Linked DNA regions of Homo sapiens. The protein of the gene in region 2 purifies or fractionates together with the protein of the main gene of each other region. This does not show direct contact. Each region holds a gene or a part of one and is shown on either strand. Other genes may lie near its edges.

Region 1 (4,435 bases), on a different chromosome or scaffold from region 2:
ACATAAGGTAAAACAAATGAATAAAAATTAAAAAAAAATGAGATAGCCAAAGATTTGAAGCTCTTTACCCATTAACATGATAATCATTTCGACTTTGAATATTTGTAGAACAAGAGTCAGAACTCAGAACAAAGATCTCTGAGGAAATAAAAAAAAATCAAGCTGCCTCCTAATTTCTCATTTAGTCTGTCATTGGGCATTGTCAAACTGTCAAACTATATTTAGAGATTCTGGTTTTCATCTGGAGACTTAGTGAGTTGTGTAATATCTTGAATACACATATAAGATCTTGCCAGGTGGGGTGGCTCATGTCTGTAATCCCAGCACTTTGGGAGGATGAGGTGGGAGGATCGCTGGAGCCCAGGAGTTCAAGACCAGCCTGGGCAACATAGCAAGTCCCTGGCTCTATTTAAAAAAAAAAAAAAAAAAAAATCCTCAATGTAGAACTTTAAATTTATCCTTACGTGTTACATCCAGTTGATTTGAGAAAATATGATTCTGAATTTTCCATCAATTGGATTGGCAGTCCCTTTCAGCTTTACAGCTTTACATCATCTACAGATTTGTTAAGTATGTTCTCTTGGTCTTCTAATTCACTGATGGAGTTTTTGAATAGGTCGGGTCCAAAGATAGAGTCCTATGAAACACTGTTGGAAACTTGTCTCTGTCTGTCTCTTTTTTTTTTGGAGACAGTGTCTTGCTCTGTCGTTCAGGCTGGAATGCAGTGGGACGGTCTCAGCTCACTACAGCCTCTGCTTCTTGGACTCAAAGAGATTCTCTCACCTCAGCCTCTCAAGTATATGGGACTATATGCATGTGCGACCAAGCCCAGATAAATTTTTTTTTAGAGATATGTTGACATTTTGCCCAGGTTGGGAGACTTGTCTCTTGATTCCATTCAGTATTGTGTGGGTTTGGATAGGCCATCTAATTATAAAATCATTGGGCTGGTCATGGTGGCTCATGCCTGTAATCCCAGCACTTTGGGAGGCTGAGGTGGGCGGATCACCTGAGGTCAGGAGTTTGAGACCAGCCTGACCAATATGGAGAAACCCCATCTCTACTAAAAACACAAAATTAGCTGGGCGTGGTGGTGCATGCCTGTAATCCCAGCTACTTGGGAGGCTGAGGCAGGAGAATAGCTTGAACCTGGGAGGCGGAGGTTGCAGTGAGCCAAAATCGTGTCATCGCACTCCAGCCTGGGCAACAAGAGCGAAACTCCGTCTCAAAAAAAAAAAAAAATCATCTAGCTCACATTTTCTCCTTGTCTTCTTCCTATTAGAATTTAAGTTCAATGAGATTAGAACTCTCTCTCTCTCTCATTCTCTCATATATCCCAAGCATCTAAAACAGGGATTGAAACATAGTAAGTACTCAATAAATGTTTTTGAATAAATGAATGAAGGATAGCTGGGCGTGGTGGCTCATGCCTGTAACCCCAGCACTTTGGGAAGCCAAGGTGGGTGGATCACTGGAGCTCAGGAGTTCAAGACCAGCTTGGGCAACATGGGGAAAACCCATCTCTACAAAATATGGAAGAATTAGCCGGGCATGACAGCACACTCCTGTTGCCCCAGCTACTTGGAGGGCTGAAGTGGGAGGATCGCTTGAGCCTGGGAAGCAGAGATTGCAGTGAGCCGAGATCAAGCCACTGCCCTCCAGCCCGGGTGACAGAGTGAGACCCTGTCTCAGGAATAAGGATAGATATGAAGAATTCGTCAGATGCCTTGTTGAAAACATCATACATTGTCTACATGGAATTCCTCCATATTGTAAAATGAATCTAATTTATACCAACAACGTTTGGCTTTTTTGCAGAAAAGGAAGCAAATGAGCTGATGGAAGATCTGTTTGAAACTGTGAGTAATGATCCTCAAGTGAGAACATGGGATTGTAAGTTGGTTCTCCAACAAAATGTGTCCTTTGATCTCTGTGATGCTCCTTCTAGAAGAGGGACTGAACCAATTCTCCTTTTAGTCTACCTGGGAAAGAATATAATGACAAAAGAAATTTGCTAACTGCTAGACTCTTGATTATCCACATGTAGGTTATTCTTACTAAAATTTTCCTTGAAGCTTTTTTTTTTTTTTTTTGAGGCAAAGTCTTGCTCTGTCACCCAGGCTCTGGAGAATACAGTGGTGAAATCTCAGCTCACAGCAGCCTCGACCTCCAGGGCTCAAAACAATTCTCTCATCTAAGCCTCCTGAGTAGCTGGGACTACAGGCACACACCTACAGGCCCGGCTAATTATTTTATTTTTTTGTAGAGACAGGGTCTTGCCATGTTCTGGAACTCATAGGCTCAAGTAATCTTCCTGCCTCAACCTCCCAAAGTGCTGGAATTACAGGTGTGAGCCAGCACATCTTGCCCCTTGAAAACTTTTGATGGCTTCCCCTACTGTCATTTGGTGTGTCCTTAAAGATTGCCAACTAGTTTTAAAGTATTTTGCACACAAATAATTACCTTTTCCATAAATTTGTCTAAAAAGATATTTCTGTTTAAGAAATTGATCATTTTGAGTTATCCTAGCTCTGTGCTTACTGATACAAGTTGACTGGTTGAGCAACTTCTTTCCTGGCATAATAGTCATTCCATATGTGGGTTTGTAGGAGTCCTGAAGTGAGAAAGGTTCTGATGTAGGCTCTTTCTGGGTGCCAGCATTATTAAAGTATTGTTTATAGTTTTCACTTTTCCTTCCCAACACTGGAGCAACATTCAAAAGCCCATTCCCCAGGAAAACCCTCCCTTTCCTTTGCCCACAGTTCCAAGATGAGATGGGATTCTCCAACATGGAAGATGATGGCCCAGAAGAGGAGGAGCGTGTGGCTGAGCCTCAAGCTAACTTTAACACCCCTCAAGCTCTACGGTAGGCTAGTTGAAGACCTTGAGATTTGGAATAGAGGAAGAGTTTATTTCTGAAAAGGTTTTCAGAAGTTGCAGTTAACAATTTTTCATCCCCAGCCAGCTTCTGTTACTGATGTAAGGATGCAGAGTCCTGTCAGGAGTTAGGTGTCAAGTGAAGTCTCCTTGTTATGGGGCAGTGCAGCTGTAGGCCAAGCTGTATCTGTTTGGGAAGGGAGAAAAAACAGTAGCTGGCATCCATATCCACTTCTCCGGGTGAGTGGTGCTGGAGAGGTATGTAGGACTCAATGTGGCCAGCCACACAAACTACCCTATATTGTAATATCCAGTCTGTCCCTTTTGTTCTTTTTATGTGCCATTAATATCTGCTAAATGTGACTGAAAATTTGTTAGTCACCTAGGCATTAGTGGAGCAAACCCTGAAGCACCTGCAGTAAGGAGTCTGAAACATACGTGCTGACCTTTTTGCCTAAAGTTGGCACTTGTGTTACAGCATCCAGAAAGTAGAGGCTTTAATTTTTTCCTCATTTTGTGGTGGATTTGCATCTGCACTTTATTCTGTTGTAGCAGCATATAATCATTAGGTCGATGGCGAGAGGTCAGGATGCAGTTTGTGCCATAAGTGGAACAAAGCAAAGAGAATAGTCCCTGTAATTAGTCCTGTGTTTGAACTTAACAGCACTACTAAGCAGAGAGCTTGGGTTCCATCTGAAAGCTAGACCTTTAGGGATTTTCCAATTTAGTGAAAAAAGATAAGATAGGCCAACCAATGTCTTAAAAACTAGAACTACTAGTCATTCTCCATTACAACAAATATCACAATACAACTACATCAAAAATCTCAAGATTGCTAAGTCAGTATTTGACCCATTATTTTAATTTATAGTTCATAGAACAAAATTCTGGTATAGCAGAATGGAACCATTCATCCTGGGAACGTATAATAGGATCTGATTAATAAATATTTTGGTTTTGCTGATCAACTCTTTATAACTTCTTAAAATTTGGAAAATATAGAACTAATTTAAAATTCCTGTTAGAATCCAGTTACCTTCTGGTATTCAATGGAATATAGTCATATATCATCTCATGGTCATACCCTCTGTGAAATCTATCATTAAACGATTCATCATTGTGTAAACATCGTAGAATGTACTTACATAAACCTAAATGGTTTAGCCTACTGCATACCTATTGCTCCCAGGCTACAAAACCTGTACAGTGTGTTACTGTACTGTACTGAATACTGTAGGCAGTTGTAACACAATGGTAAGTACATATGTATGTAAACATAGAAAAGGTACAGTAATCTTATGGAGCCACCTCTGACTATGTGGTTCGTTATTGACTGAAACATTCTGTGGCGCATGACTGTACTTGGGCAGCTTCTGCTTCTCTTTCGATTGCAAATACAAACCTGTTTTTGTTTTAATCTTTGACTAAATAAAAATCCCTCTGTAAGTCCATAGAGAGTAAGCACATCTTAAAACACAATAAGGAAGAGAGAGGAGAAAAAGACAGTCAAAACAAAAACTCTGGGGCTTCCCTTATCAATTACCTAAATAATCCTTGT
Region 2 (5,371 bases):
CTGTAGTCCCAGCTACTCAGGAGGCTAAGGCAGGAGAATCGCTTGAACCTGGGAGGCAGAGGGTGCAGTGAGCTGAGATCACACCACTCCACTCCAGCCTAGGTGACAGAGCAAGACTCATCTCAACAACAACAACAACAAAAAAGAAATAGCTGGGCACAGTGGCTCACGGCTGTAATCCCTGTAATCTTAGCACACACTTTGGGAGGCTGAGGTGGGTGTCCCAAGAGTTTGAGACAACTCTGGGCAACATGATGAGAACCTGTCTCTACAAAAATACAAAAATTAGCTGAATGAGGTGGCGGACGCTTATAGTCCCAGCTACTCGGGAGGCTGAGGTGGGAGGACTGCTTGAGCCTGGCAGGTGGAAAAGCTGCAGTGAACTGAGATTGCACCACTTTCCTCCAGCCTGGCTGATAGAGTGAGGACCCTGTCTTCAAAAAAAAAAAAAAAAAAAAAACCACAAAAAACCCAAAACAAAAGCTACTTTGCAGTATCTGCACAGGAATAAACACTACTTGAAAAAGAGAGGGTGAACTGCAATCCACAGTGTGCCTTTTAGGACTCTCAGGATAACACAGCCATATTTTTGCATGAGAAATGGGATAAAGCGAGAAATGGGATAAAGTGAGATAAAGAAAATACAATTTGTTAAGTTGGATTCTGGTCCCTAGCTGTTCCCCCATCAAGCTGTGTGATGCTGGGCAAGTTATTTAGCTGGCTCTAGGTCTTATATGTAAAACTATGTTTTCTCATCTGCTTCCCACAGGGTTCTTGGTATGATGAAATGGCATGTCAGAAAAAGGTATTTTGAAACCTTCAAAGTACACTAAAATAAGTATTTTTTCCCTCTTCAATAAAGAATGAGGGTGCTCTTACAGAGAATATGTTATAAAAGATTTGAGGTGGAAGCTTAATTTACTCAGTGGTCAGAACTAAACTCAGTATTTTCTTCAGCCTTATTGAGGTTTGTCATACAATATACGACACATAAAGTATACAATTTGAGGTTCTGACATATGTATATATCCATGACATCATAACCACAATCTACATAATGAACATACTCATTACCCTGAGGTTTCCTCATGCCCTTTGTAAACTTCCTCCTTATCCCACCATGCCACATCTTAGCATAAATAGAATTTTAGTTCAGGCAGGACCACAGCAAAAAAATTACCACAGGATAGAAAGTAGGGCTCTCGGCCAGGTGCAGTGGCTCACGCCTGTAATCTCAGCACTTTGGAAGGCCGAGGTGGGTGGATCACAAGGTCAAGAGATCAAGGCCATCCTGGCCAACATGGTGAAACCCCGTCTCTACTAAAAATACAAAAATTAGCTGGGCGTGGTGGTGTGTGCCTGTAGTCCCACCTACTCGCGAGGCTGAGGCAGGAGAATCACTTGAACTCAGAAGGCAGAGGTTGCAGTGAGCTGAGATCACGCCACTACACTCCAGCCTGGCAAAAGAGCGAGACTCTGTCTCAAAAAAAAAAAACAACAACAACAAAAAAAAAGTAGAGCTTTCTAAAAGAACATGGAAACTACTAACTAATATCCTGACTGGTGGCTCCCAACAAAGGCTTCTGTGGCCACACATTTGTCTGTGGTGTTTGAAAGTCTAGTGCCCTTTTGTGTCACTCCCCCCACACCCCTTTTTTTTTGAGACAGAATTTCGCGCTCATTGCCCAGGCTGGAGTGCAATGGTGCGATCTCAGCTCACCGCAACCTCCGCCTCCCAGGTTCAAGCAATTCTCCTGCCTCAGCCTCCTGAGCAGCTGGGATTACAGGCATGCGCCACTGCGCCCGGCTAATTTTGTATTTTTAGTAGAGACGGGGTTTCTCCATATTTATTGGTCAGGCTGATCTCAAACTCCCGACCTCAGGTGATCCACCCGCCTCGGCCTCCCAAAGTGCTGGGATTACAGGCGTAAGCCACCACGCCTAGCCATCGCTCCCCTTTTTGAACACACTTCCAAATGTTCCATACAGAGCACTATACCTGTTTGGAAACCAACAAAGAAACTGAAAGTCAGAACCCATATGCAGTGCAGCTGTAGGCCTGAGGTGCACACAGGGACTCTTACCACTGCCTCGCTCCCTGGAACAGACAGACTTGACGTTGTATGATGGCTGCCGTGGATCCAAGAAGGAGACATGAGCTTGGGAGCCCACTGCATAAACTGACCATTCACTACCATAAGCCAGACACACATTCTCACGGCAATATGGCAGTTTGGTGGAGAGGAGCTGAAAATAGAGGAGAGATATAACCATGGCATCAGCAGAGAGGGTAAGGCAGGGATATTGTTTCTGGACTCCCACCTTGATGGGCTTCCCTCATATAAAAGCCACATAAAATCAAGCCCTGATTACAGAAATAACACTCTGTTCCACCCCTAGGTATACAGGAGAAAGAGGAGGTGAATGTTAATAAACGGTAAGACCTAGATACTGAAGGAGATAGGTTGGGGAAAAGGTAAATCTGGAATAAATAATCAGAAGTAGCTGGAAAGGCCAAGGCCTTTCTTGGTAGGCTGTTTCAACTATTCAGGTTGTTTCTGGGAATCGTTCCAGGGCACTAAAGCCATAGTCCCACTCTGTTCTGTCTGCCAGGAAGGGCCACCTCAGTGCTTTTCAGATAAAGAGGCTGATCTCTGGCTACCCCCAGCTCACCTTCCCACCTGAATGGGAATTGTACGCTATAGAAAGCACGCCCATGGGACTAGCTTAATCCCAGATAACCCACATCAGCCTTAACCCTGGGTCTTCGTCAGTTAGCAAATCCTCAGTGGGTGCATACAACACATAAGACAGCATACAAGGTCAGTGGAGCTCAAAGGCTATTGTGACATGAAGGAATCACTAATTCCTGGAACCCTGCTTCCTCTTGCAAAGTCCTCAAGGATAAGAAGAAGAGAAAAAGCTGGGCGTGGTGGCTAACGTCTGTAATCCCAGCACTTTGGGAGGCTAAGGCAGGCAGATCACCTGAGGTCAGGAGTTTGAGACCAGGCTGGCCAACCTGGTGAGATGCCATCTCTACTAAAAATACCAAAAATTAGCTAGGGGTAGTGGTGCATGCCTGTAATCCCAGCTACTCAGGAGGCTGAGGAAGGAGAATCACTTGAACCTGGGAGGCGGAGGTTGCAGTGAGCTGAGATCGTGCCACTGCATTCTAGCCTGGGCAACAAAGTGAGACTCTGTCTCAAAAAAAATAAAAAAAAGACAAATGATTCACAGGTAGGTTTAACTCTATGTAAAAGTTGCTTGTTGAATCTCCCTTATCCAAAAGGCTTGTGACTACAAATGTTTTGAATTTCGGATTTCTCCAGCTTTTTTTTTTTTTTTTTGAGACGGAGTCTCGCACTGTCGCCCAGGCTGGAGTACAGTGGCGCGATCTCAGCTCACTGCAAGCTCCACCTCCTGGGTTCACACCATTCTCCTGCCTCAGCTTCCCGGGTAGCTGGGACTACAAGCGCCCACCACCACGCCCGGCTAATTTTTTGTATTTTTAGTAGAGACGGGGTTTCACCATGTTAGCCAGGATGGTCTCAATCTCCTGACCTTGCGATCCGCCCACCTTGGCCTCCCAAAGTGCTGGGATTATAGGCGTGAGCCACCGCACCCGGCCCCGATTTTTAAATATCTACATATATGTAAGGAGCTATCTTGGGGATGGCACCCAAGTCTAACCACAAAATTCATTTATGTTTCATATACATCTTATACACATAGAGTGAAGGTAATTTTATGCAATATTTTAAATAATTTTCTGCATTAAACAATGTTTGGTACACTGACCTGTCAGAAAGCAAAGGTGTCCCATGTGAAATTTTCCATTTGTGGCATTGTGTTGGTGCTCAAAAAGTTTTGGACTTTGGAGGCTTTTTTTTTTGAGAGAGAGTCTTGCTCTGTTGCCAGGCTGGAGTGCAGTGGCATGATCTCGGCTCACTGCAACCTCTGCCTCCTGGGTTCAAGCGATTCTCCTGCCTCAGCCTCCCAAGTATCTGGGACTACAGACGCCCACCACCACGCCCAGCTAATTTTTGTATTTTTAGTAGAGACGGGGTTTCGCCATGTTGGCCAGCATGGTCTCAATCTCTTGACCTCATGATCCACCTGCCTCGGCCTCCCAAAGTGCTGGGATTATAGGCGTGAACCACCGCGCCAGGCCTTTTTTTTTTTTTTTTTTTTTTTTTTGAGATAGGGTCTCGCTCTGTCACCCAGGCTGGAGTGCAGTGGCAAAATTACGGCTCACTGCAGCCTTGACCTCCTCAGCTCAAGTGGTCCTCCTGCCTCAGCACTGCTACCCTCCAGTAGCTGGGACTACAGGCATATGCCACAATGTATGGCTAATTTTTAAATTTTGTTGCAGAGATAGGGTCTTACTGTGTTGCCCAGGCTAGTTTTGAACTCCTGGGCTCAAGCAATCCTCCTGCTTCAACCTCCCAAAGTGTTGGGATTACAGGCCTAAGGTATTGTGCCCAACTGGATTTTGGAGCATTCTGGATTAGGGATGACCAATTTGTATTGTAAATTAAGTCTATTTTCTCATTACCTTACATGATTATTTCAGAGATGGTTTATCTTAATTTGATCGATCTTCAATTGCCAAAGGTTCCTAACACTCAGGATTTCCTTCCCTTACAGCATGCCAAGTAGTCATCAATCTATAAAGAAATACTTAAATGCATTGTTGAGGAGGACTGCTAGTCAAAGGAGCCTCTCAGGAAGCTTATGCAATAGGAAAGAATCACCCTGTCTTACTCTTTAAAAGACTTTCCTGCAAGAGAGGCACACCAGACTCAAAATTTCATGTACTGTGCAAAAACATGCCCAGGCCTTTGGAGAACTGGTCTTTTAAACAAGAATTGAGACCAGGTGCAATGGTTCATGCCTGAATGCCCAGCACTTCGGGAGACCAAGGTGGGAGGATCGCTTGAGGTCAGGAGTTCAAAACCAGCCTGGGAAACATAGTGAGACTCTGTCTCTACAAAAAATTAAAAAAACAAAACAAAACAAAAAAAACAACCAGATGGGTGTGGTGACACATGCCCATAGTCTCAGCTACTTGGGAGGCTGAGGCAAGAGGATCGCTTATGCCCAGGAGTTCAAGGCTGCACTGATCCATGAGCCATGACTGCACTCCAACTTGGGTGACAGAGTGAGACCCTGTATTTATTGTCTTTAAAAATAAAAATACCAACCTGGCCAACATGGTGAGACTGTGTTCCTACTAAAAATACAAAAAAAATACCTGGGCATGTTGGCAGACGCCTGTAATCCCCGCAGCTACTCAGGTGGCTGAGGCACAAGAACTGGTTGAACCCAGGAGGCAGAGGTTGCAGTGAGCCAAGATTGCACCACTGCACTC

What was found.
Region 1: the proteins of DCAF12 (region 2) and YY1AP1 purify together in Homo sapiens (affinity purification with mass spectrometry; one large-scale study listed by BioGRID and IntAct). This does not show direct contact.

What each region holds. Positions count from the first base shown.
Region 1 is NC_000001.11:155,677,840-155,682,274, reverse strand, and holds part of YY1AP1 (YY1-associated protein 1), read left to right. Parts: intron 1-1,818; coding exon of another isoform or gene 1,819-1,838; coding exon 1,839-1,859; intron 1,860-2,266; exon of another isoform or gene 2,267-2,347; intron 2,348-2,445; exon of another isoform or gene 2,446-2,762; coding exon 2,763-2,866; intron 2,867-2,961; exon of another isoform or gene 2,962-3,167; intron 3,168-4,435. UniProt on the Homo sapiens protein: Associates with the INO80 chromatin remodeling complex, which is responsible for transcriptional regulation, DNA repair, and replication. Enhances transcription activation by YY1. Plays a role in cell cycle regulation.
Region 2 is NC_000009.12:34,091,202-34,096,572, forward strand, and holds part of DCAF12 (DDB1- and CUL4-associated factor 12), read right to left. Parts: intron 2,248-5,371; coding exon 2,085-2,247; intron 1-2,084. UniProt on the Homo sapiens protein: Substrate-recognition component of a DCX (DDB1-CUL4-X-box) E3 ubiquitin-protein ligase complex of the DesCEND (destruction via C-end degrons) pathway, which recognizes a C-degron located at the extreme C terminus of target proteins, leading to their ubiquitination and degradation.